Linked DNA regions of Homo sapiens. The gene in region 5 interacts genetically with the main gene of each other region. Each region holds a gene or a part of one and is shown on either strand. Other genes may lie near its edges.

What was found.
Region 1: changes in FASN (region 5) and MAML2 together harm fitness more than expected from each alone (negative genetic interaction), as found in Homo sapiens cells (one large-scale study listed by BioGRID).
Region 2: changes in FASN (region 5) and ESRRG together harm fitness less than expected from each alone (positive genetic interaction), as found in Homo sapiens cells (one large-scale study listed by BioGRID).
Region 3: changes in FASN (region 5) and ALG6 together harm fitness more than expected from each alone (negative genetic interaction), as found in Homo sapiens cells (one large-scale study listed by BioGRID).
Region 4: changes in FASN (region 5) and EDC4 together harm fitness more than expected from each alone (negative genetic interaction), as found in Homo sapiens cells (one large-scale study listed by BioGRID).
Region 6: changes in FASN (region 5) and LINS1 together harm fitness less than expected from each alone (positive genetic interaction), as found in Homo sapiens cells (one large-scale study listed by BioGRID).
Region 7: changes in FASN (region 5) and RLF together harm fitness more than expected from each alone (negative genetic interaction), as found in Homo sapiens cells (one large-scale study listed by BioGRID).

The regions. Positions count from the first base shown.
Region 1 is NC_000011.10:95,976,196-95,979,695, reverse strand, and holds the end of MAML2 (mastermind-like protein 2), read left to right. Parts: coding exon 1-748; 3' UTR 749-3,098; downstream 3,099-3,500. UniProt on the Homo sapiens protein: Acts as a transcriptional coactivator for NOTCH proteins. Has been shown to amplify NOTCH-induced transcription of HES1. Potentiates activation by NOTCH3 and NOTCH4 more efficiently than MAML1 or MAML3.
Region 2 is NC_000001.11:216,674,930-216,678,429, reverse strand, and holds part of ESRRG (estrogen-related receptor gamma), read left to right. Parts: intron 1-938; coding exon 939-1,354; intron 1,355-3,500. UniProt on the Homo sapiens protein: Orphan receptor that acts as a transcription activator in the absence of bound ligand. Binds specifically to an estrogen response element and activates reporter genes controlled by estrogen response elements.
Region 3 is NC_000001.11:63,426,627-63,430,126, forward strand, and holds part of ALG6 (dolichyl pyrophosphate Man9GlcNAc2 alpha-1,3-glucosyltransferase), read left to right. Parts: intron 1-2,106; coding exon 2,107-2,175; intron 2,176-2,301; coding exon 2,302-2,500; intron 2,501-3,500.
Region 4 is NC_000016.10:67,879,552-67,883,051, forward strand, and holds part of EDC4 (enhancer of mRNA-decapping protein 4), read left to right. Parts: intron 1-35; coding exon 36-223; intron 224-298; coding exon 299-420; intron 421-511; coding exon 512-665; intron 666-1,005; coding exon 1,006-1,439; intron 1,440-1,524; coding exon 1,525-1,629; intron 1,630-1,713; coding exon 1,714-1,866; intron 1,867-1,945; coding exon 1,946-1,982; intron 1,983-2,116; coding exon 2,117-2,294; coding exon of another isoform or gene 2,295-2,402; coding exon 2,403-2,558; intron 2,559-2,660; coding exon 2,661-2,776; intron 2,777-2,877; coding exon 2,878-3,043; intron 3,044-3,127; coding exon 3,128-3,314; intron 3,315-3,406; coding exon 3,407-3,500. UniProt on the Homo sapiens protein: In the process of mRNA degradation, seems to play a role in mRNA decapping. Component of a complex containing DCP2 and DCP1A which functions in decapping of ARE-containing mRNAs. Promotes complex formation between DCP1A and DCP2.
Region 5 is NC_000017.11:82,081,237-82,084,736, reverse strand, and holds part of FASN (fatty acid synthase), read left to right. Parts: intron 1-20; coding exon 21-224; intron 225-352; coding exon 353-503; intron 504-583; coding exon 584-762; intron 763-845; coding exon 846-965; intron 966-1,097; coding exon 1,098-1,220; intron 1,221-1,311; coding exon 1,312-1,535; intron 1,536-1,621; coding exon 1,622-1,823; intron 1,824-2,058; coding exon 2,059-2,210; intron 2,211-2,322; coding exon 2,323-2,414; intron 2,415-2,576; coding exon 2,577-2,728; intron 2,729-2,893; coding exon 2,894-3,136; intron 3,137-3,384; coding exon 3,385-3,500. UniProt on the Homo sapiens protein: Fatty acid synthetase is a multifunctional enzyme that catalyzes the de novo biosynthesis of long-chain saturated fatty acids starting from acetyl-CoA and malonyl-CoA in the presence of NADPH.
Region 6 is NC_000015.10:100,568,805-100,571,184, reverse strand, and holds part of LINS1 (protein Lines homolog 1), read left to right. Parts: intron 1-524; exon of another isoform or gene 525-734; intron 735-1,067; coding exon 1,068-1,947; 3' UTR 1,948-2,380.
Region 7 is NC_000001.11:40,202,887-40,206,386, reverse strand, and holds part of RLF (zinc finger protein Rlf), read right to left. Parts: intron 1-3,500. UniProt on the Homo sapiens protein: May be involved in transcriptional regulation.

The DNA.
Region 1 (3,500 bases), on a different chromosome or scaffold from region 5:
GCCACGGCCACCTACCTTAGGGCCAAGTAATAATAACAATGTAGCCACTTTTGGAGCTGGATCTGTTGGTAATTCACAACAATTGAGACCAAATTTAACCCATAGTATGGCAAGCATGCCACCACAGAGAACATCAAACGTAATGATCACATCCAACACAACTGCACCAAACTGGGCCTCTCAAGAAGGAACAAGCAAACAGCAAGAAGCCCTGACGTCTGCAGGAGTCCGCTTCCCCACAGGTACACCTGCAGCCTATACCCCAAATCAGTCACTGCAACAGGCAGTAGGTAGCCAGCAATTTTCCCAGAGGGCAGTGGCTCCTCCTAACCAGTTAACACCAGCAGTGCAAATGAGACCCATGAACCAAATGAGCCAAACACTAAATGGGCAAACCATGGGTCCCCTCAGGGGTCTGAATCTCAGACCCAATCAGCTAAGCACACAGATTTTGCCTAATTTGAATCAGTCAGGAACAGGGTTGAATCAGTCGAGGACGGGCATCAACCAGCCACCATCCCTGACGCCCAGCAATTTTCCTTCACCCAACCAAAGTTCCAGGGCTTTTCAAGGAACTGACCACAGCAGTGACTTAGCTTTTGACTTCCTCAGCCAACAAAATGATAACATGGGCCCTGCCCTAAACAGTGATGCTGATTTCATTGATTCTTTATTGAAGACAGAGCCTGGTAATGATGACTGGATGAAAGACATCAATCTTGATGAAATCTTGGGGAACAATTCCTAAAGAAGAAAGGGAAGACAATTTACAAACTCCAAGCACTAAAAGGCAGTATATTACAGAAACTCTGTAGAGGCTGAACTGTTGATGTTCAGGTGGACTACATGAAGATAACATGCTTAAAAATGGAAAGCAGAAAGTAACTGCAGTGATGAACATTTTGGTCCAAATTCTTGTTTTAAATCTTACACCTGAAAGTAAAATATTGGGATCACTTTTCCCTGTCTAAACTCCAGGATACAGTATCCAATTTATCCAAACAGAACTGTGGTGTCAATGTGTAATTAATTGTGTAAAATAGCCTTCCCAAGTTTCTTTTTCCCTGGAAAATAAAAAAGGTAATAGAACTTGTAGTTTATTTAAACCCCATGTCATGAGGAGGTACTAGTTCCAAGCAACAAACTCCTTAATTTGCTCTAATAGATAGGTATGGTTTAATCTTTCCATTGTGTCTTTTCATTTAATTTTCCTGAAGCTTGCAGGATAGATTGAAATGTTATAGGTTTGTTTGGAGTAACCAAACAGTATGCAAATTAAGAAAAAGCCAGAGAACCTAGAAAACATCCAGTGGATTACAGAATTTCTTCCCCATATTCACTCCTCACTTTTACAATTTTCCCACAATCCTCTACTTCAGTGGGATGCTGTGTCTAGTGATTAAACAAAAATATAGAGCTGTGCAATTTGATTTTGGCTTCCACAACGAATATCTGAATCCATTCCAAATGAAATTTTAGATATAACAAAGACTTGTCCTAATCATACTGAAATATTGGTGCACACCTCTCTGCATTAGATTTCACTTTTTTAAAAAACCCAGTGGACATTGCTATAAATAAGATTTATTTGGCTACAAATAACCTGGGATGTTGCTTATTATGATTGATGCCTGCTGGTTTGTTCCCAAGCTGAGTGAAATTGAACCTCGTCCTCCCTACTCATTTTGATGACTGAGGCTGGTTTATAAGAAAAGGAAGTTTGGAGAAGAAAACCGAGATTAGAAAATATCATGTTTTGGTTGGAGATAAGAACCAGGGATGGCAAGTACCAGTGTGTACAAATGTATTTCACGGAGTTTGAAGGAACGCATAATCAAGAGGGAAAACAATTTGTCCTTCATTGGACGTATTATTTGGATTTGGGTGAGCAACAAAATGGAATGTGGTCTGTTAGGAGCATTCTGTTTGTTCTTTTGTCCCTGATGTGATGAATCATTGCCACATGCTAGATGGACTCTTCATATCCAGGTTTTGTCCCTCAGGGCTGAGCACTGTATTAAAGAGTTTTTGTTGAGTCATTTAACCTTAGTGTCCACATCCAGATCAGCTGTAAAATGGGGAAGACGTGTGCTGATTTGGAATGAATGCAAAATATCACTATCATTTTCCTAATTACAGAGGAGCAAAGGTTATCTTCAGCCCTTTCAGTTCTATGCTCACATATTCAAATATCAAATGTAATTTAGCTGAAGTTATTTAATAATCAAGTCTTTCAATATCTGTTCAAAGAAAAAGAACACACTTTGAAAATTCTGCAAAGCTGTCTCCCAGTCTTTAAAATGTCTGGAAGCACTCTCCTTCTTTACAATACCAACATCACTGGCCCAGAATCTTCCCTGTGCTAGTTTGTAAATATAAATAAATTACTTGTTTTGTAAACTTTTGTAAAGAATATTTTGGTAGAAATACTTCAAACATATTCTTTGGGTTATATTTATACATATGTGAAATAAATATACTATCAAAAGGTTATATTTTATACAAAAAGTAAATTGCTACCTTTTGTATGCTAATATGCAAAGTTTTGTATAATATGATGGTTTATTTTTAGCTCTACACTTAAACCATAGGTGGTTGAGTGGGAACTTTTGAAAACTATCAAGAGGCTTGTTAGACAAATTTATATTCTGAAACCTCAATAAGAAAGCATTCCAGGTTTCAATCCTTGTTTTTTGTCCTGCTCCCAAATTCTTTTTTAAACCCATAGTTCTTGTGTCTTATTTGATTCTTCTGCTGTGCACATTGTATTGGTCCTTGTTGCATGTAGTCTACTGTGTGTTTTCCGATTTTATAAGGCAGCATTTCTCCATACAAAAAGAAAAAAAATGATGTACATATAAACGCTTTTGTTGTATGGCTCCTCCATGTTACTGTATATATCTGCCAGCACTTCCCAGTTACACTCCTGTGAGTCAGCTTATTTTTACCCTAACATAAATAGTATGTTTTGTAGTAGTTATCAAATTTAAGAGATAAAGCAATCAGAATGTTTGGATTTTCTTCTATCTTAATGTGAATTTCATAATTAATGTCTATTTATTCAGCTATTCATTAAAATACAGGATTCTTTGGGAAAACATGATGTGTAGTCTGTAGTTTGTTTGTTAGCAGCCTATTACCAAAGGTGACATAATTTTCCTGAAAGCAGAGATAATGACAATTTGATAGACATATTTAGCTAAAACCTTAAGATTTACAACTTAAGAGCTATTGGAATACAATCTGCCATTTTTAGAAATACCAGACCACTTAATTGTTGGCATTGTTTATCATCCTGACATAGAGAGGAGGTAGAAGCAATTTTTCTTTTTTGTTTTAAGTCAAAGACTAGAAAGCAGTTTAAGCAAGTAATTCGGTCTTGGCTTTGTATTAAGCCCTATGAAGATAAATAACTCTGCTCTAAGTGAATGCGCTAATGTTACCTGCATTACTGTAAACGTACCATAACGGTAAAGATTTCAACTTGTAAAACAAGTATG
Region 2 (3,500 bases), on a different chromosome or scaffold from region 5:
ACATTTCTACTTTACTGAATGTAAATATAACATCAGATTTTATAGTATCAGATAATATACATATAATATCAGATTTGTGGACTTACAGGTATACTGAAGGCTCAAATGGCTTTTACTGATTCATCTCTTAAATAATGGCAAATCACACATAAGAAACACATGCACGTATTTATTAATGAATGTTGGTGATGAGTCACTAAGTTTTGCAGGCTCTAGGAATAATCTTTAAATATTGGCTGGAATTTTATACTTGATGTCTTTCTATATTGCCAAATGGCTATGAAATAGAGCAATTTAAATAAAGAAACAAAGTGATTGAGGATATATTCCCTATGTGTTTTAGTCAGATCAATAAGACACAGTTATGCTTATGGAAGCGTGCTGACAAACAGTAATTACAGAGCTGAGGATCATCTGTTCAGTCTTGAAAATAAAAGTTTTATTCTGCTCATAATAAAATGATTGCAGCATCAGAATGAGGAAGGAAAGGTAGAATGAGGATAAATACAATTTTAGAAATGGTATAGACTTTGCAAATCACCACCTCTTCCATTGATAAATTTAGAATCTAGAGTTGAGTTAGATATTGACACTGGTTCTCCAAGAGAAAGGTAAAATAAAAGCAATCGGACTCTTTAGAGCTTTTGTTTATGGCCTGTCTGGGCCCTTTGTTGTAACCCTGTCATGCCCTTATGCTGATTACCTTCTTGTAGAACAAGAAGTATTGACTAGAGAATGAATGATGTGTAGTCCCTAGCCCTTAGGAAACTCTCTCAAAGAGCAATGTCTTTAACATATGAATTCTGTTTTTTTCCTCCTTTTACCTTTCCCTTTCCCTTTCTCTATTTTTCACCATCTCTTTTGTTTCTACCTCTTTTGGTCTCTGTGCTTGACACTCTCTCCTCTTTCTGTCTCTCTTTGTATCTCCTCAATCTCAGGCTTCTCTGCAGAATGTCAAACAAAGATCGACACATTGATTCCAGCTGTTCGTCCTTCATCAAGACGGAACCTTCCAGCCCAGCCTCCCTGACGGACAGCGTCAACCACCACAGCCCTGGTGGCTCTTCAGACGCCAGTGGGAGCTACAGTTCAACCATGAATGGCCATCAGAACGGACTTGACTCGCCACCTCTCTACCCTTCTGCTCCTATCCTGGGAGGTAGTGGGCCTGTCAGGAAACTGTATGATGACTGCTCCAGCACCATTGTTGAAGATCCCCAGACCAAGTGTGAATACATGCTCAACTCGATGCCCAAGAGACTGTGTTTAGTGTGTGGTGACATCGCTTCTGGGTACCACTATGGGGTAGCATCATGTGAAGCCTGCAAGGCATTCTTCAAGAGGACAATTCAAGGTTAGTGTCGGACCTGGGAATACTCTCCCCACTTCCAACCTCACATGATGGGTTTTTGTTTTTCCTTATTCTTATTCTCATAAGTCAAGTATCATAGTTTTAATTCTCTCTTGAGTAGAAAATGGAAATAGATTACAATTGATAGTGGAAGATTTATAGAATAAAATCCCCCCAGATATACTCCATATCTATTAATTTTCCTCTTACTGTTAAGCTTTAATGGTGCAAGGATAATAAACTTTGGGTAGAGTTTACAAGAGCATAGTTATTATTAGAGCAATGTGGGTCTATATAGCAACTGTACAAATGCACATTGGACTAACAGTGTTTTTGACCCCTTTGGATCTTCTTACAGATGCATGGAAATAATAAATACTTTAGACCAGTGATTTCCAAACTTGAGTGTGCATTAAAATCATCTGGAAATCTTGTTAAAATGCAGATTCCTGGGTCCTACCTCCAGAATTTCTGATTCATTAGATCTGGGGTGGGGGCCTGCCTGAGATTGTATATTTTTAACAAATTTTCAGGTAATGCTGATGATGCTGCCGGTCCAGGGACCAATTTTAAGAATCACTGCTCTAGACAAATTTAATTACCTACTCATCTTTCTTTTTTCCTTATGGTTGGATATACTTTTTCTAACTTTTAAATGAATTTATATTAAAAAAAACCTTCCAAATTATACCAATAAAATGGCATTGAATGATAAAATATACCTCCAACATATATAAGTGATATATACCCCAAACTTCATAGATTTCAGATTTATAAATAACATTATTTCCGCCATACAGTGTAGAAAAATAGGACTGAAATTTGTTTATGCCCTTTTAAACTGGTAATCTACAGATCTAGAATTCAGTTCATGAAAAAGCTATAGATATATATTCTGGCAAAAAAATTAGATTTCACGTTTTTAGGTCTCTTGTAATTCACTTTTGAAGAAAATAGGGGAAGAAAAAAATATATTTTGAGGATCCACAGCACACCAATGGTTCTGCTCAGTGGTTTACAAAATGTGTCTTCCTAACAACCAGTTATGGACACAAAGTCTATCTTCCCACATATCAGTGGTTCTCAAGCTTGCCAGCTCATTGGAATCAGTGGAAGACTTAAAAAAACATGCTGATGTCAGGGCTCATGTCCCCAAATTCTGAATTAATTGGTCTTGGGTACAGCCAGGGAAAGGGGGGTTTTTGAAAGCTTCCTAGGTGATGCTTAATGTAAAGGCAAAGTTAAGAAACACTGCACTGTACTGTGTTGTATTATTTGCCAACAGTTCTCAAAGTGCAGTGGCTGTACCAGCAGTACCAGCATCATCTGGGAAAATGTAAGAAATGCAAGTTCCCAGGCCCCATCCTGTATTAACTCAAACAGAATCTCTGAGGGTGGGCCTAGCAATCTGCATTTTACCAACCCTCTGGGTAATCCTGATGCTAATTCAAATTTAGACCCCCTGCTCTAGACCATGCTACTGCTGATTCACCACTGACCATAGACCATCATCATCTAATGGCCCCTTGCTGGACAGAACTGAAACTAATTTATGTGGAGCCTTCATAATTTTGTGACGTACTAGTTTTCAAAGTACAAAAGAAGTAATGTTTGTTAAGTGCTAATCCTTTTAAATATTTTCACAAAACATGATTCTGAAACCCTTTATGTGTACATAGAGCAGTCTCCCACCTTCTCCCCCTTTTTTTTTTCTTTTTGAGGCAGATTTTTACTCTTGTGGCCCAGGCTAGAGGGCAATGGCATGATCTCGGCTCACTGCAACCTACATCTCCTGGGTTCAAGTGATTCTCTTGCCTCAGCTTCCCAAGTAGCTGGGATTACAGGCATGCACCAACACGCTTCTCTAATTTTGTATTTTTAGTAGAGACAAGGTTTCACCACATTGGCCAGGCTGGTCTCGAACTCCCGACCTCACGTGATCCACCCGCCTCAGCCTCCCAAAGTGCTGGGATTACAGGCATGAGCCACCGTGCCCGGCCCACCTTCCCTTTTAAGAGCATCTGGAAATTCAACTCTTCTTCATCAGTTGCACTGAATATTTTAGTGACAATCCTTACTTGTACTGGCTCTCCCTTGCTTTTTTGTTGTCTGTTACATAACTTCCTTGATCTGTGGCTGATGAGAACAC
Region 3 (3,500 bases), on a different chromosome or scaffold from region 5:
TCGGACTCCTGGGCTCAAGTGAGCCTCCCACTTCAGCCTCCCAAGTAACAAGTACCCCAGGCGTGCGTCACCATGCCAGGCTAATTTGTAAATTTTTTGTGGAGGTGGTGTCTTGCTATATTCTCTAGGCTGGTCTTGAATTCCTGGGCTCAAGTGATCCTCCCACCTTGGCCTCCAAAAGTGCCAGGATTACAGTTGTGAGCCCCTGCGCCGGCTGTAATACATTTTTTGTCAATGCTTGTGTTTGGTAAATAAATATTGAATGCATAAATGGGAAAGAATTAAACCAGAAAGAGAAAACAGTATTTATTGAGCACCTTCAATGAGCTTGCTATTAATATGCGTCCATTCTCAAGCAGTGAAATGGAAAGTCCTCTAGTAATTTCTTTCTTTGAGATGGAGTCTTGCTCTGTCACCAGGCTGGAGTGCAGTGGCACGATCTCGGCTCACTGCAACCTCCGACTCCCTGGTTCAAGCAATTCTCCTGCCTCAGCCTCCTGAGTAGCTGGGATTACAGGCACGCACCACCGTGTCCAGCTAATTTTTTTTTTTTTTTTTTTGTATTTTTAGTAGAGACGGGGTTTCACCATGTTGGCCAGGATGGTCTTGAACTCCTGACCTCGTGATCCGCCTGTCTCAGCCTCCCAAAGTGCTGCGATTACAGGTGTGAGCCACTGCGCCCGGCCTAGTAATTTCTTTTAGTAGTTTTCAGTTTATAATCCCAGGGTTTAAATCTCATATATTAGTTGACATAGGAAAAAGTCATCCTTCTGGGAAAGGGGGAGAATGCCCAAATCTTTATAGAGCACTTTTTAAAATAAAGAGATTCAAAATAATGATAACAATTATTCAACAACCACCATCATTAGGAAAGTTTATTGTATTTTAAAAAAGTAAACACTAGATGATACCTGCAAAGAGTTCTTTCAACTATTTAAGAATACAGGGTATTATTATTATTTCCATTTCCACTTAAGAAAATAGATTAATCATTTGCTCAAGGTCACACAGTAAATAAAGGGCAAACATGGGGACCAGGACTCAGGGCTTCACACTAGCAATGCTCCTTCTTTGAGCATTGCCACAATTGAATCCCAAAGGTACTGGAGCAGGAGTTGTGGTAAGGAGGTTACAGGGCTTAGAGCTATGACCCTAAACAACTTTTTTTTTTTTTTTTTTTTTTTGGAGATGGAGTCTCGCCCTGTCATCTCACTCTGTTGCCCAGGCTGGAGTGCAGTGGTGTGATCTCAGCTCACTGCAACCTCCTCCTCCCGGGTTCAAGCAGTTCTCCTGCTTCAGCCTCCCAAGTAGCTGGGATTACAGGCACGCACCACCAAGCCCAGCTAATTTTTTTTGTATTTTTAGTAGCGATGGGGTTTCACCATGTTGGCCAGGCTGGTCTCGAACTCCTGACCTCAAGTGATCTACCAGCCTTGGCCTACCAAAGTACTGGGATTACAGGCCTGAGCCACTGTGCCTGGCCCCTAAACAATTCTTTGATAAAGCCAGTGGTTCTGTTTATTGGCATTGTGCTTCCTGTTCCTATACTATTTCCCTTTTTATGTAGCTCTTCCTACTAATTTCTTCCTCCTTTTAATTTTATTATTATCAATTTGTTTTCCTTTATCCTCTTGTCTCTCTTGTCCTCTCCAGTGGCATGATGATGTTGTCTGCCATATCTTTAGTTTTAACTTAGCGGAGTAATATGTAACATGAAAGAACATAAAAGAGATGTTTGAAAACAATACTGGGAATTCATATTTACCAAGTACTACGAAATATGTGACAAAGCCTTCTCAGATTTGTTTATCTGATCCTTTTCTTAAGCTACTTGTTTGTATGATAGAGAAAAAAAGTTCCATTAACGGCATACTGGAAGCAGCAGTTTTCCAATTATTATGAGGAGTTGACACCTCTGTGCCTGTGTCTAGGCTAATTTAGTCTGGACTGTTAACAAAATGAATCAGTAGTCCATATGAAGACCTTCCTGGCTGTTTTTAAGCTACCGCTGAAAATCAGACAGATAAAATGTATTTATATTTTTTACAATTAGGAGTTGAAGTTATATTCTGTAATATTAAAATATTTTTTTCTTTACGATTTTAGACCAGTCTGCTTAGTTTTAAGTGAAATTCCTTTTATGTCTACTTGGTTTTTACTTGTGTCAACATTTAGGTAAGTCATATCAATTTCCATATATTTTCAGTATAATTCTTGTAAACTAATTTAAAACTTTTTTATGAAGTGGTTATGGTTTGAATTGATAATTCTCTTGTGATTTTTAAAAATTTTCCTTTACAGTATGCTACCTCTTCTATTGAAGGATGAACTCCTAATGCCCTCTGTTGTGACAACAATGGCATTTTTTATAGCTTGTGTAACTTCCTTTTCAATATTTGAAAAGACTTCTGAAGAAGAACTGCAGTTGAAATCCTTTTCCATTTCTGTGAGGAAATATCTTCCATGTTTTACATTTCTTTCCAGAATTATACAATATTTGGTAAGTTCAATTTTTAAGAAATGACACATTTTTCAGCATGTCACTATTTTAAAAAATTATTGAAGTAGTGATTTTCTTTTATACCTTTTTGAGATATAATTCACATAAATCCACTCATTTAAAGTATACAACTTAGTGGTTTTAAGTATGTAAACAGATTTGCACAACTATCACCATCATCTAATTTTACATTATTTTGTCACTCCCAGAAGAAATTCTGTACCCATTAGCATTCATTCCCAATTCTATTCTCACTCCTAACTCCCTTCCTTGGACAGCCAGTTTCTGCCTCTTTAGATTTGCCTACTTTGGACATTGCATATAAATGGAATGTATTAGTCTGTGATAGCTGCCATAACAAAATACAACAGAAATTTATTTTCTTACAGTTCTAGAGACTAAAAGTTCAAGATCAAGATCAAGGTTCTACCATCAGGGTTGGTTTCTGGTGAGGCCTCTCTTCCTGGCTTGTAGAAGGTCTCTGCTTTATGTGTCACACATGGAGAGAGACCTCTGTTGTCTCTTCCTTTTCTTGTAAGGACACCAGTACTACTGGATTAGGGCCCCATTCTTATCATCTAATTTAACCTTATTTACCTCCTAAAAGGCTATATCTCCAAATAACAGTCACATTGGGGGTTAGGGCTTCAACATATGAATTTTAATTCAGTCCATAACATGGGATAATAAAATTGTGGTCTTTATGACTCGGTTCTTTCACTTAGTGTGTGTGTGTGTGTGTGTGTGTGTGTGTGTGTATTTATTTATTTTTTTGAGACAGAGTCTTGCTCTGTCACTCAGGCTAGAGTGCAGTGGCATGATCTTGTCTCACTGCAACCTCTGCCTCCTGGATTCAAGCAATTCTCCTGCCTCAGCCTCCCTAGTAGCTGGAACTACAGGCATGCGCCACCATGCCCAGCTAAATTTTGTATTTTTAGTAGAGATGGGATTTCAGTATGTCGGCCAAGCTGTTCTTGAACTCCTGACCTCATGATCTGCC
Region 4 (3,500 bases), on a different chromosome or scaffold from region 5:
CTGAGATCTAACTCAAGTGGCAACTTGCCCTGCAGCATTTGGAGAGTCTCGGCCCGAACTGGGCTCTGAGGGCCTGGGGTCAGCCGCTCACGGCTCCCAGCCTGACCTCCGACGAATCGTGGAGCTGCCTGCACCTGCCGACTTCCTCAGTCTGAGCAGTGAGACCAAGCCCAAGTTGATGACACCTGACGCCTTCATGACACCTAGCGCCTCCTTGCAGCAGGTACTCTCCCAGGGTAGGGGGACCTGGGAATGCCTCAGCCACAGGCCACAGGTCTTATTTCCTGCATCTCCCCAGATCACTGCCTCTCCCAGCAGCAGCAGCAGCGGTAGCAGCAGCAGCAGCAGCAGTAGCAGCAGCTCCCTTACAGCTGTGTCTGCCATGAGCAGCACCTCAGCTGTGGACCCCTCCTTGACCAGGTGAGGCAAGGGTCAGAGATGGAGGATGGCAGGGGCTGGTACCAGATGATGCCAAGCTCTGGCTGCTGACACCTCAGCCTTCCCCCACCAGGCCACCTGAGGAGCTGACCTTGAGCCCCAAGCTGCAGCTGGATGGCAGCCTGACAATGAGCAGCAGTGGCAGCCTTCAGGCAAGCCCGCGTGGCCTCCTGCCTGGCCTGCTCCCAGCCCCAGCTGACAAACTGACTCCCAAGGGGCCGGGCCAGGTGTGTGACTGGGTGTGTGTGTGAAGTGTGGGGAGCAGGTGGGCAGCAGCAGGGAAGGTGGGTGGTGGGCTCCTCCCAGCCCCCTGCTGCTGATCCTGCTCTACCCGACATGGTCCGTGTTTCCCTGAGGTCATTTCACCCTCCTGTGTTTCCTGGTGGGTGTCTCCTCAGCCTCCCTGTCCCCACCTCCTCTTCTTGGCTGTGGCCTCGTTTTTGACCTGTATCCCCACTTCCCTGCTGCCCTGTCTCTCATTACTGCTAATACTAATGCCTCGTCTCTGTGCCCCCCATCTCTGCCTCACTTCCTGTCACTTAAGCCCCCATCTTTGGCCCACCTCAGGTGCCTACTGCCACCTCTGCACTGTCCCTGGAGCTGCAGGAAGTGGAGCCCCTGGGGCTACCCCAAGCCTCCCCTAGCCGCACTCGTTCCCCTGATGTCATCTCCTCAGCTTCCACTGCCCTGTCCCAGGACATCCCTGAGATTGCATCTGAGGCCCTGTCCCGTGGTTTTGGCTCCTCTGCACCAGAGGGCCTTGAGCCAGACAGTATGGCTTCAGCCGCCTCGGCACTGCACCTGCTGTCCCCACGGCCCCGGCCAGGGCCCGAGCTCGGCCCCCAGCTCGGGCTTGATGGAGGCCCTGGGGATGGAGATCGGCATAATACCCCCTCCCTCCTGGAGGCAGCCTTGACCCAGGAGGCCTCGACTCCTGACAGTCAGGTTTGGCCCACAGCACCTGACATTACTCGTGAGACCTGCAGCACCCTGGCAGAAAGGTGAGGAGCTTGGGAGGGGAAAAGTGTGCTAGCAGGAGGGGCTTCAGATAGATTCATCCATGGCTAAGTTGGCCTGTCCTCCCAGCCCCAGGAATGGCCTTCAGGAAAAGCACAAGAGCCTGGCCTTCCACCGACCACCATATCACCTGCTGCAGCAACGTGACAGCCAGGATGCCAGTGCTGAGCAAAGGTGGGAGCCACTCTACACCATTGCCCTCATGGGGGGATGGGCAGCAAGTGGGCAGGGGCTTACTCCTCCTTCCCCTTCCCACAGTGACCATGATGATGAGGTGGCCAGCCTTGCCTCTGCTTCAGGAGGCTTTGGCACCAAAGTTCCTGCTCCACGGCTGCCTGCCAAGGACTGGAAGACCAAGGGATCCCCTCGAACCTCACCCAAGCTCAAGAGGAAAAGCAAGAAGGATGATGGGTAGGGAGAAATCCTAGGGAGGGAGAGGGTGGTCTCTAGGCTGCCTCACATAGCCTGAGGTGCTTCTCGCCTATGGCAGGGATGCAGCCATGGGATCCCGGCTCACAGAGCACCAGGTAAGTGAATGAGCCCACTTTGTACTTGTGGAACTTCACCCTGGGCGGGTGGAGAAGGGCTCTGGGCCATTCCCTGGTCTGGTGTGTGGGAATAGGTGGGGCAGGCATCGTGTGACTGTCAGTGCTACTGACAGGTGGCAGAGCCCCCTGAGGACTGGCCAGCACTAATTTGGCAACAGCAGAGAGAGCTGGCAGAGCTGCGGCACAGCCAGGAAGAGCTGCTGCAGCGTCTGTGTACCCAACTCGAAGGCCTGCAGAGCACAGTCACAGGCCACGTAGAACGTGCCCTTGAGACTCGGCACGAGCAGGAACGTATCCTTGAGACTGGTAGCACAACATGGCATAGGGACGGGGGCAGCATTCTTGGCCTGGGAAGGAGTACACGACCTGCTCCAGGCCCGTTCCTTAGCTATGGCGCAGAGCGGCGGCTGGAGCGAGCACTGGCTGAGGGGCAGCAGCGGGGAGGGCAGCTGCAGGAGCAGCTGACACAACAGTTGTCCCAAGCACTGTCGTCAGCTGTAGCTGGGCGGCTAGAGCGCAGCATACGGGATGAGATCAAGAAGACAGTCCCTCCATGTGAGTTTTGCATGCAGACTCCCTTTGGGTGGTTCAGGTGGGAGTGGGGTACCTGTCAAGCTTCTTCTCATGGCTCCACCTCACCCTCTTCCCCTCTCCCAGGTGTCTCAAGGAGTCTGGAGCCTATGGCAGGCCAACTGAGCAACTCAGTGGCTACCAAGCTCACAGCTGTGGAGGGCAGCATGAAAGAGAACATCTCCAAGCTGCTCAAGTCCAAGGTGCTATAGGGCCCAAGATGTGGGTGGAGGTGGTGGTTCCTGGGCCTAGTCAGGCCAGGCTGGGCTCAGGCTTTCAACTTGGCCCCTCCCTCTAACCCCAGAACTTGACTGATGCCATCGCCCGAGCAGCTGCAGACACATTACAAGGGCCGATGCAGGCTGCCTACCGGGAAGCCTTCCAGAGTGTGGTGCTGCCGGCCTTTGAGAAGAGCTGCCAGGCCATGTTCCAGCAAATCAATGATAGCTTCCGGCTGGGGACACAGGAATGTGAGTGGGGTCATATGGCCCAAGGTGGGAGGGGTTATCCTCTTTCCTACTGTTCCTCTTATAGTCCCTGTGGTCACCCCTCAGACTTGCAGCAGCTAGAAAGCCACATGAAGAGCCGGAAGGCACGGGAACAGGAGGCCAGGGAGCCTGTGCTAGCCCAGCTGCGGGGCCTGGTCAGCACACTGCAGAGTGCCACTGAGCAGATGGCAGCCACCGTGGCCGGCAGTGTTCGTGCTGAGGTGCAGCACCAGCTGCATGTGGCTGTGGGCAGGTGTGTGGGCAGAGTACTGGGCAAGGTGGTGGGCTTGAGAAAGGCCAGACTAGGCTCCCTGTCCACTTCACCTCACTCACTTCCCTTTGCAGCCTGCAGGAGTCCATTTTAGCACAGGTACAGCGCATCGTTAAGGGTGAGGTGAGTGTGGCGCTCAAGGAGCAGCAGGCCGCCGTCACCTCCAGC
Region 5 (3,500 bases):
CCACCTCCCTGTTTCCCTAGACAAGCCTGAGGAGCCGACGGCACATGCCTTTGTGAGCACCCTCACCCGGGGGGACCTGTCCTCCATCCGCTGGGTCTGCTCCTCGCTGCGCCATGCCCAGCCCACCTGCCCTGGCGCCCAGCTCTGCACGGTCTACTACGCCTCCCTCAACTTCCGCGACATCATGCTGGCCACTGGCAAGCTGTCCCCTGATGCCATCCCAGGTATGGGTGGCATGGGGCCGTGGGAGTGGACTGGGCCGGGGAGCAGAGACCCCAGCAGCTAGGACCTGCCTGGGAGCCCCTCGGGAGGGAAGGGCAGGCGGTGAGGGGCTCAGTGCCGTCTCCCCCAGGGAAGTGGACCTCCCAGGACAGCCTGCTAGGTATGGAGTTCTCGGGCCGAGACGCCAGCGGCAAGCGTGTGATGGGACTGGTGCCTGCCAAGGGCCTGGCCACCTCTGTCCTGCTGTCACCGGACTTCCTCTGGGATGTGCCTTCCAACTGGTGAGTGTGTCGAGGGTGTGAGCCTGGGCCCCACGTGGATGGCGGCCAGGCCTGTGCTGACCCACCTGCTGCATCCCCAGGACGCTGGAGGAGGCGGCCTCGGTGCCTGTCGTCTACAGCACGGCCTACTACGCGCTGGTGGTGCGTGGGCGGGTGCGCCCCGGGGAGACGCTGCTCATCCACTCGGGCTCGGGCGGCGTGGGCCAGGCCGCCATCGCCATCGCCCTCAGTCTGGGCTGCCGCGTCTTCACCACCGTGGGTAAGGCCCCGCCCCCGGTGCCTCCCGCTGCCCTCCTGGCCCCGCCGCCCTGGCTCACCAGCCGCGCTTCCTCTCTTCACCAGGGTCGGCTGAGAAGCGGGCGTACCTCCAGGCCAGGTTCCCCCAGCTCGACAGCACCAGCTTCGCCAACTCCCGGGACACATCCTTCGAGCAGCATGTGCTGTGGCACACGGGCGGGAAGGGTGAGTGGCCCCCACAGCCCCCACCTGCCTCCTGCCTAGCCTCCGGCCCAGGGAGAAGCAGGGTCTGGCCCTCTGGACTGTGGTGGCTGGGCTTGCAGTGGGTGTGATTGTCTGGCCCCTCTGGCCCCCTAGGCGTTGACCTGGTCTTGAACTCCTTGGCGGAAGAGAAGCTGCAGGCCAGCGTGAGGTGCTTGGCTACGCACGGTCGCTTCCTGGAAATTGGCAAATTCGACCTTTCTCAGAACCACCCGCTCGGTGAGGCCGGCAGCGCCTGGGCGGGGGTGGGCATGGATGGGTGTGGGTGGACCTGTGGAAGGCCCTGGGTGAGCACGGCCCCTGCCCGCAGGCATGGCTATCTTCCTGAAGAACGTGACATTCCACGGGGTCCTACTGGATGCGTTCTTCAACGAGAGCAGTGCTGACTGGCGGGAGGTGTGGGCGCTTGTGCAGGCCGGCATCCGGGATGGGGTGGTACGGCCCCTCAAGTGCACGGTGTTCCATGGGGCCCAGGTGGAGGACGCCTTCCGCTACATGGCCCAAGGGAAGCACATTGGCAAAGTCGTCGTGCAGGTGAGGGGAGGAGTCCCGGCGCCTCGGGCACCCCAGGCTCTGGTCCCCAGGCAGTGCCTGAGCCGGTGGGTGCTGCTTGGACGCAGGTGCTTGCGGAGGAGCCGGAGGCAGTGCTGAAGGGGGCCAAACCCAAGCTGATGTCGGCCATCTCCAAGACCTTCTGCCCGGCCCACAAGAGCTACATCATCGCTGGTGGTCTGGGTGGCTTCGGCCTGGAGTTGGCGCAGTGGCTGATACAGCGTGGGGTGCAGAAGCTCGTGTTGACTTCTCGCTCCGGGATCCGGACAGGTGAGTCGGCAGGGGTGCTTGTGGACCAGCCTGGGCCAGGCACAGCCCCGGGCCCCTGAGCCCTTCTCTGCAGCCCACCATTGTGGGCTGTCACGGTGCCTGGGGTCTGTCCCCCTCCATCTTGTGGGGGGCTTGCTGGATGGGGCTCTGCGGCTGCTCCCCACTTCCCCAGCCCGGCGTGTAGGGAAGAGACCGTACCCTGGCCCAGTCCAGCCCACAGTCCTGTGTCCCGCAGGCTACCAGGCCAAGCAGGTCCGCCGGTGGAGGCGCCAGGGCGTACAGGTGCAGGTGTCCACCAGCAACATCAGCTCACTGGAGGGGGCCCGGGGCCTCATTGCCGAGGCGGCGCAGCTTGGGCCCGTGGGCGGCGTCTTCAACCTGGCCGTGGTGAGGGAAGGCCCCAAATGGGGCCCTCAAAAGCCCCAAGACCAAGGGGGGGACCCTGGGTGGACGGGTGAGGCCCTGGAGCTGCAGGGAGTGCTGAGGATGCCTCCCCCAGGTCTTGAGAGATGGCTTGCTGGAGAACCAGACCCCAGAGTTCTTCCAGGACGTCTGCAAGCCCAAGTACAGCGGCACCCTGAACCTGGACAGGTGGGTACCGCACAGCCCTGCTCCCGCCTCTGCCGGGCTCTGGGCTCAGGGCCGTGGGAGCCAAGGTGGTTTGTTGACAGCCCTCTCTGGCGTTTCCTGGGGATGGGACGTTGGGGGCTCCTGGGGATGCTGGCCAATGGGGAGTGACACGCGTGCCCACAGGGTGACCCGAGAGGCGTGCCCTGAGCTGGACTACTTTGTGGTCTTCTCCTCTGTGAGCTGCGGGCGTGGCAATGCGGGACAGAGCAACTACGGCTTTGCCAATTCCGCCATGGAGCGTATCTGTGAGAAACGCCGGCACGAAGGCCTCCCAGGTGGGCCCCACCCTCTCCCCTCGACCCTGCCCACCCTGCCCTCTCCCAGTGGCCACTCCCCACCCCCACCTTCTCCCCGCAGCCCTGCCCACCCCACCCTCTCCCAGTGGCCACTCCCCACCCCGACCTCCCCGCAGCTCTGCCCACCTGCCCCCTCCCCCACAGGCCTGGCCGTGCAGTGGGGCGCCATCGGCGACGTGGGCATTTTGGTGGAGACGATGAGCACCAACGACACGATCGTCAGTGGCACGCTGCCCCAGCGCATGGCGTCCTGCCTGGAGGTGCTGGACCTCTTCCTGAACCAGCCCCACATGGTCCTGAGCAGCTTTGTGCTGGCTGAGAAGGCTGCGGCCTATAGGGACAGGGACAGCCAGCGGGACCTGGTGGAGGCCGTGGCACACATCCTGGGTGAGCACTCCCAGTAGGAGCCGCGCCAGGTGTTTCCCCTGCTGGCATCAGGGTCTTGGGACATAGCAGTCGTGCCCCTGTGCGCCTCAGTTTCCCCATCTGCAGAGCCAGGGTGCGGGCGCAGGTGTCACTGTGGTGGTGGTGCTTTGGGAGATGCACAGCCCACGCACCCCTGGGTGTCAGCCCTGCCGCATACAGGCCGTCCCCATGCCCCCTCTGGAGTTGCCGACCCGGCGCATCCCTTCCAGGCATCCGCGACTTGGCTGCTGTCAACCTGGACAGCTCACTGGCGGACCTGGGCCTGGACTCGCTCATGAGCGTGGAGGTGCGCCAGACGCTGGAGCGTGAGCTCAACCTGGTGCTG
Region 6 (2,380 bases), on a different chromosome or scaffold from region 5:
CGCCAGTACTTACTTGTATTATGACACTGCTGGCAATGGCTGCTCTTAGACTCTTGAGTGTTTGGGGCCAATTTTCAAAAGGTCCTAATCAAGAACACAAAATTCCTGCATGTGATTTGAATTAGGTTCAAAATGGTCAAATACAAGTTCAGTCTGAAAATGCACACGCCTGTAAGAGTGTATCTTAATTGTACTCAAAGTTAGCTCCTTACTCCTCAGGAAGTGGAAACCCCTGAATGAAACTGACTTTGTGTGTGAATTTCTCACTTTCTGAATCCAGTTCAGTGTGTCCAGAGAGGCATGTGCTTACAACATAGATAGTTTTTTTCAGATGTAGTTGTATTTGTTAAGATTTTTTTGGTTGTAAATGATAGAAACCAACTCTAATTTGAGCAAAAGCCAGCATTTATTGGCTCATAACTGGGAATTCTAAAGGGTCAAGTTGGAGTCAGGTATAACTATATGTACAGGGACTATAATCAATCATGTCATCAATCACTTCTCAATTTTTCTCTGTCTCACAGTTTTGAATTCATTCTCAAGGCATGGCCACCGGCAGTTCAAGGCGTACCTCAGCCTTACAGTTATAATCTTCCATAGCTCCAGCAAAAGTCCCAGGGGAGACCTGATTAACCCACTTGGGTCACAGAGCCTTGTCAGAACCAGTCATTGTGGCCAGGAGCATGGAGTGCTCTGATTGGTCAATCTGGGTCACATGCCCACCCTTGTTGAGGGTAAGGAAGGAGGTTTAGGAATTATCTTACCACATGGAATTGGTTACCTATAAGAATGAGGAGTTCTGATGTCGAGAGAAAGAACAACAGGTAACTTTTATTGGGCAGACAAAAACTAGAACTGCCAAAGTCAGTGGATTTTGCTTTACTGAGTCAGATTTCTTTAGAGCTTATGGGGAAGGGAATGGGTTTTGAAATTTTTTCTTTTAAGAAGTGATGCATAGATTTAAAAGTAATCTAATAGGTTAATTTATGGTATGTGAATTATATCTGGTAAAACTGTTTATTTTTGTAAGGTCATTAATCTGCATTCTCCATTATCTTCATTTTCAGAGGATGTGAAGCCACTGAAAGCTTGACTCAGGGAAAAGAAATGTGGGACCATCACACACATGAAAATGGCTATAATCCTCACTGTATTTTCTTGTTCTTCTTGAAAAATATAGGATTTGATTCCACAGTTCTTCTTGACTTTTTGATTTCATCAGAAACCTGTTTTCTTGAATATTTTGTTAGATATTTAAAATTACTGCAAAAGGACTGGGATAATTTTTTCACCATTTGCAATAACTTTGATGCAACTGAATCTAAATATGACATAAGTATTTGTGGCTGTGTCCCCTCACTTGTCCAAGACCAAAGCTCCAACCAAACAATACCCCATCGTTTGACTGCTCCTCATAGTCACAGAGATGTGTGTGCTCGGCACTCCTGGGCTTCCGATGCTCCCTCTGAACCACTGAAAGCTGTGATGTCCAAGGGGGCTCACACCATGTGTGCTTCTAGTCTGTCTTCCCCCCGGGCCTCTCAAAGTCTGGTAGATTACGACAGCTCTGACGATTCTGACGTGGAATCCACAGAGCAGTGTTTAGCTAACAGTAAACAGACATCTTTACACCAGCAAGCAACTAAGGAGATTCAGGATGCAGCTGGGACAAGCAGGGATAAAAAAGAATTTAGCCTTGAGCCTCCATCAAGGCCTCTGGTTCTGAAAGAATTTGATACTGCCTTCTCCTTTGATTGTGAAGTAGCCCCAAATGATGTCGTCTCTGAAGTGGGAATATTTTACAGAATAGTAAAATGCTTCCAGGAACTACAAGATGCCATCTGCCGTTTGCAAAAGAAAAATCTTTTCCCATATAATCCAACTGCACTTTTGAAGTTGTTAAAATACATAGAGGTGATAAGTAATAAAACTATGAACACTTTGTAAAACATTGACATTTTATTTTCCAGGTATTGTTTTTCCTTAATATAAATTATGTCTCAATGAGGTAATAGTATAAAATCATCACCATAAAAGGGTTTTCTTTTTTTTTTTTTTTTTTGAGACAGAATCTCATTCTGTCGCTCAGGCCGGAGTGCAGTGGCGTGACTCGACTCACTGCAACCTCCACCTCCTGGGTTCAAGCAATTCTCCTGCCTCAGTCTCCCGAGTAGCTGGAATTACAGGTGCCCGCCACCACGCCCAGCTAATTTTTGTATTTTTAGTAGAGACGGGGGTTTCACCATGTTGCCAGGCTGGTCTCAAACTCCTGACCTCAAGTGATCCGCCTGTCCGCCCTCCCGAAGTGCTGGGATTACAGGCATGAGCCACTGTGCCCGGCTGGGTTTTCTAGACAAGTTCTTACTTTTTGCCTTATTGG
Region 7 (3,500 bases), on a different chromosome or scaffold from region 5:
ATTACTGGTAGTACACCAAACTCAGGTTTGAATCCCAGCTTAACCACTTTAGCTTTGTAACCTTGAAGCACACAACCTAATCTGAGCCTGACTTTCCTCATCAATAAAATGGAGCTACCTCAGAGCTATTGTGCTGATTAAATGTAGCAAAGTATATAAAGCATTTAGCATGGTGCCAAACACATAGTGAGGACTAAAAAAAACCCTCATAAAAGCAAAGTCCAAATATCAGGAATATCAAGAGCTTAGTTACGGACATGTTAAATCTGTAAGTAGAGATGGTAATTAGGCAATTGGATATGGGTCTGGAGTTTGGAGGAGGGAACAGGGCTGGAGAGAAAACTTTTGGGAGTCAGACCATAGTTGGTATTTAAAGCCAAAGATGAAGGAAATAAGCCTAGTTAAGTGTAAAAAGAGAAGACCCAATGACAGAGTCATTGGGTACTGCAACATGTACTCATCAGACAGCAAAGTAGAACTGAGAAAGGAGTAATCAATGAGGTAGACAGAAAACTGAAAGTCATCATTAGATTTAGTGATATGGTATACTGCCAGGGGCAAAGGTCATATTAGAATGTCTTGAAAGAAGAAAAATGGGCCAGGCACCGTGGCTCACGCCTGTAATCCCAGCACTTTGGGAAACAGAGGCGAGCGGATCACGAGGTCAGGAGATGGAGACCATCTTGGCTGACACGGTGAAACCCCGTCTCTACTAAAAATACAAAAAAAATTAGCCGGGCATGGTGGCGGGCGCCTGTAGTCCCAGCTACTCGGGAGGCTGAGGCAGGAGAATGGCGTGAACCTGGGAGGCGGAGCTTGCAGCGAGCCAAGATCGTGCCACTGCACTCCAGCCTGGGTGACAGTGCGAGACTCTGTCCCAAAAAAAAAAAAAAAAAAAAAAGAAGGAAGGAAAATGTTCGATAGTAAATTAAGACAATTTGTTAAAGAAATTATGCTTAAAAAGCCAGAAGGAAATGGGGCAGTAGCTAAAAGTAGAAACAGGATCTAAAGCAGCGTTATTTTTATTTTATTTTATTTTTTTGAAGACAGAGTCTCGTTCTGTTGTTCTGTTGCCCAGGCTGGAGTGCAGTGGCGTGATCTCAGCTTACTGCAGCCTCTGCCTCCTGGGCTCAAGCAATTCCCGGGCTCAAGCAATTCTTGTGCCTCGGCCTCCCTAAGTGCTGGGATTACAGGCATGAGCCACCACCTCTGGACCTAAGAAGAGCTCTTTTTTAAGGACAGAATAAATAATAGCATAAATGCCAATGGGGTGGTTATAACAGAGACAGGGAAATCGATGATGTAATAGAGAAAAGGAGAACTGCTGTAGCATTATCCTTAAGGGAGACAACATCAATTGAAATACAGAAGTGAGGGAGGCTGGCCTTAGCTAGGAGAACAGATATAATTTATCTCTAGTAACAGAAGAGAAGATGTACATTCATAGATGCTGGTAGATGAATAGATGTTTCAGAGACAGAGCTTATGAAAATTCTCTTATTTATCTTCTCAGCGCTTCAATTTTTTTCAGAGAAATAGGGAGTTAAGTTCAGCAACAGAGAGTGAAACAGGGCAGAAAGTATTACAGTATAGTTTTGAAGAATAAGAAAAAACTATGCAACTATCTAAGAGTGGGAGAATGAATGGGCTAAAGAAATATAGGCTGGGTGCAGTGAGTGGCTCACACCTGTAATCCCAGCACTTTGGGAGGCTGAGGTGGACGGATCATTTGACCCTGGGAGTTCGAGACCAGCCTGGGCAACATGGCAAGACCCTGTCTCTCCAAAAAAATAAAAAATAAATAAAAAATAAATTAATCGGGAATGGTGGCATGTTTCTGTGGTCCTAGCTACTCCAGGGGCTGAGGTGGGAAGATCACCTGAGCCCAGGATTTTGAGGCTGCAGTGAGCAGTGTGCGCCACCACACTCTAGCCTGGAGTAAAATTAGCTGGCAGATTTTTCTCCATGTAAATTTGGCCCCATGAGTGCAGGTAAACACATAGAGTAGGTGAAGATTTAGGGATAATCAGGATACTGGTAGTCAAACAAGTACAATTAAGAGAGAGACCAGTGGCCGGGAGCAGTGGCTCACGCCTGTAATCCCAGCACTTTGGGAGGCCGAGGCGTGTGGATCATGAGGTCAGGAGTTCAAGACCAGCCTGGCCAAGATGGTGAAACCCCATCTCTACAAAAATACAAAAAAATTAGCCAGGCGTGGTGGTGGGCGACTGTAATCCCAGCTACTCGGGAGGCTGAGGCAGGAGAATTGCTTGAACCCAGGAGCAAAGATCGCGCCACTACACTCTAGCCTGGGCAACAGAGCGAGACTCTGTCAAAAAAAAAAAAAAAAAAGAGAGAGGACCTCTCGCTCTTTGAGAGTGATAATGATGATCTGACAATGACAAAGCAGAGTTAAATAGGGAAGTGAATACATAAGGGGGATAAGGGAAAATGAAAAGGTGACAAGATCAATAGATCTTGATTGATCCTGGTGGAGACTGTATATTAAAGGGAGTAAGGTAGAAAGATAGACAATTGTATTTGGAGAGTAAGATATTACAAGTAAAAGTTTCAGAATTACTACAGCATAAAACCAGATCCTTGGGACTACTACATCTAATAAAAAATTTCAGTTCAGAGTAAGAATCCATATGTCAGAATTGAATGGCAGATAAGAGGATTAAAGGTAGATGATGAAATAAAGCTTAAGAATCTCTAGTTTTTTTCTGTATAATGTCAAAAACCATTAGAGAAGTCTAACTCCAAATTTAAGAAACATAATAATTGAGGTTTTTTTTTTTTAAAGGATGCAATCTGATACATAAAATAGTTGTTGTTTTTTTGAGATGGAGTCTCACTCTTGTCACCCAGGCTGGAGTGCAGTGGCACGATCTCGATGCACTGCAACCTCCACCTCCCGGGTTCAAGCGATTTTCCTGCCTCAGCCTCCTGAGTACCTGGGATTACAGGCGCCCACCACCATGCCTGGCTAATGTTTGTACTTTTAGTAGTACAAGCTGAAGCAGGTGGATCAGTTGAAGTCAGGAGTTCAAGACCAGCTTGGCCAACATGGTGAAACCCCGTCTCTACTAAAAAGTACAAAAAGTAGCCAGGCATGGTGGCGCATGCCTTTAGTCCCAGCTACTTGGGAGGCTGAGGCACAAGAATCACTTGAACCCGGGAGGCAGAGGCTGCAGTGAGCCGAAATTGCACCACTGCACTCCTGCCTGGGTGACAGAGCAAGACCTTGTCTCAAAAAAAAAAAAAAAAAAAAAAAGACTCAACCCTTATTTTCCATGATATCCAGTTTGGCCACTTAATTGTTCAGGATGTAGTCATGGAATCTAGAGTCCTATACTTTTCTGCTTACAAAATTAAATATATAAAGTAACTTAAGCTAAAATTAAGTGCCATTTTCTTTAGTTTATCCCTTGATGCCATGATTAACAACTTCTGCATTCCCCAAACATGGAGACGTCATTACTTTAAAAAGAAAAAAC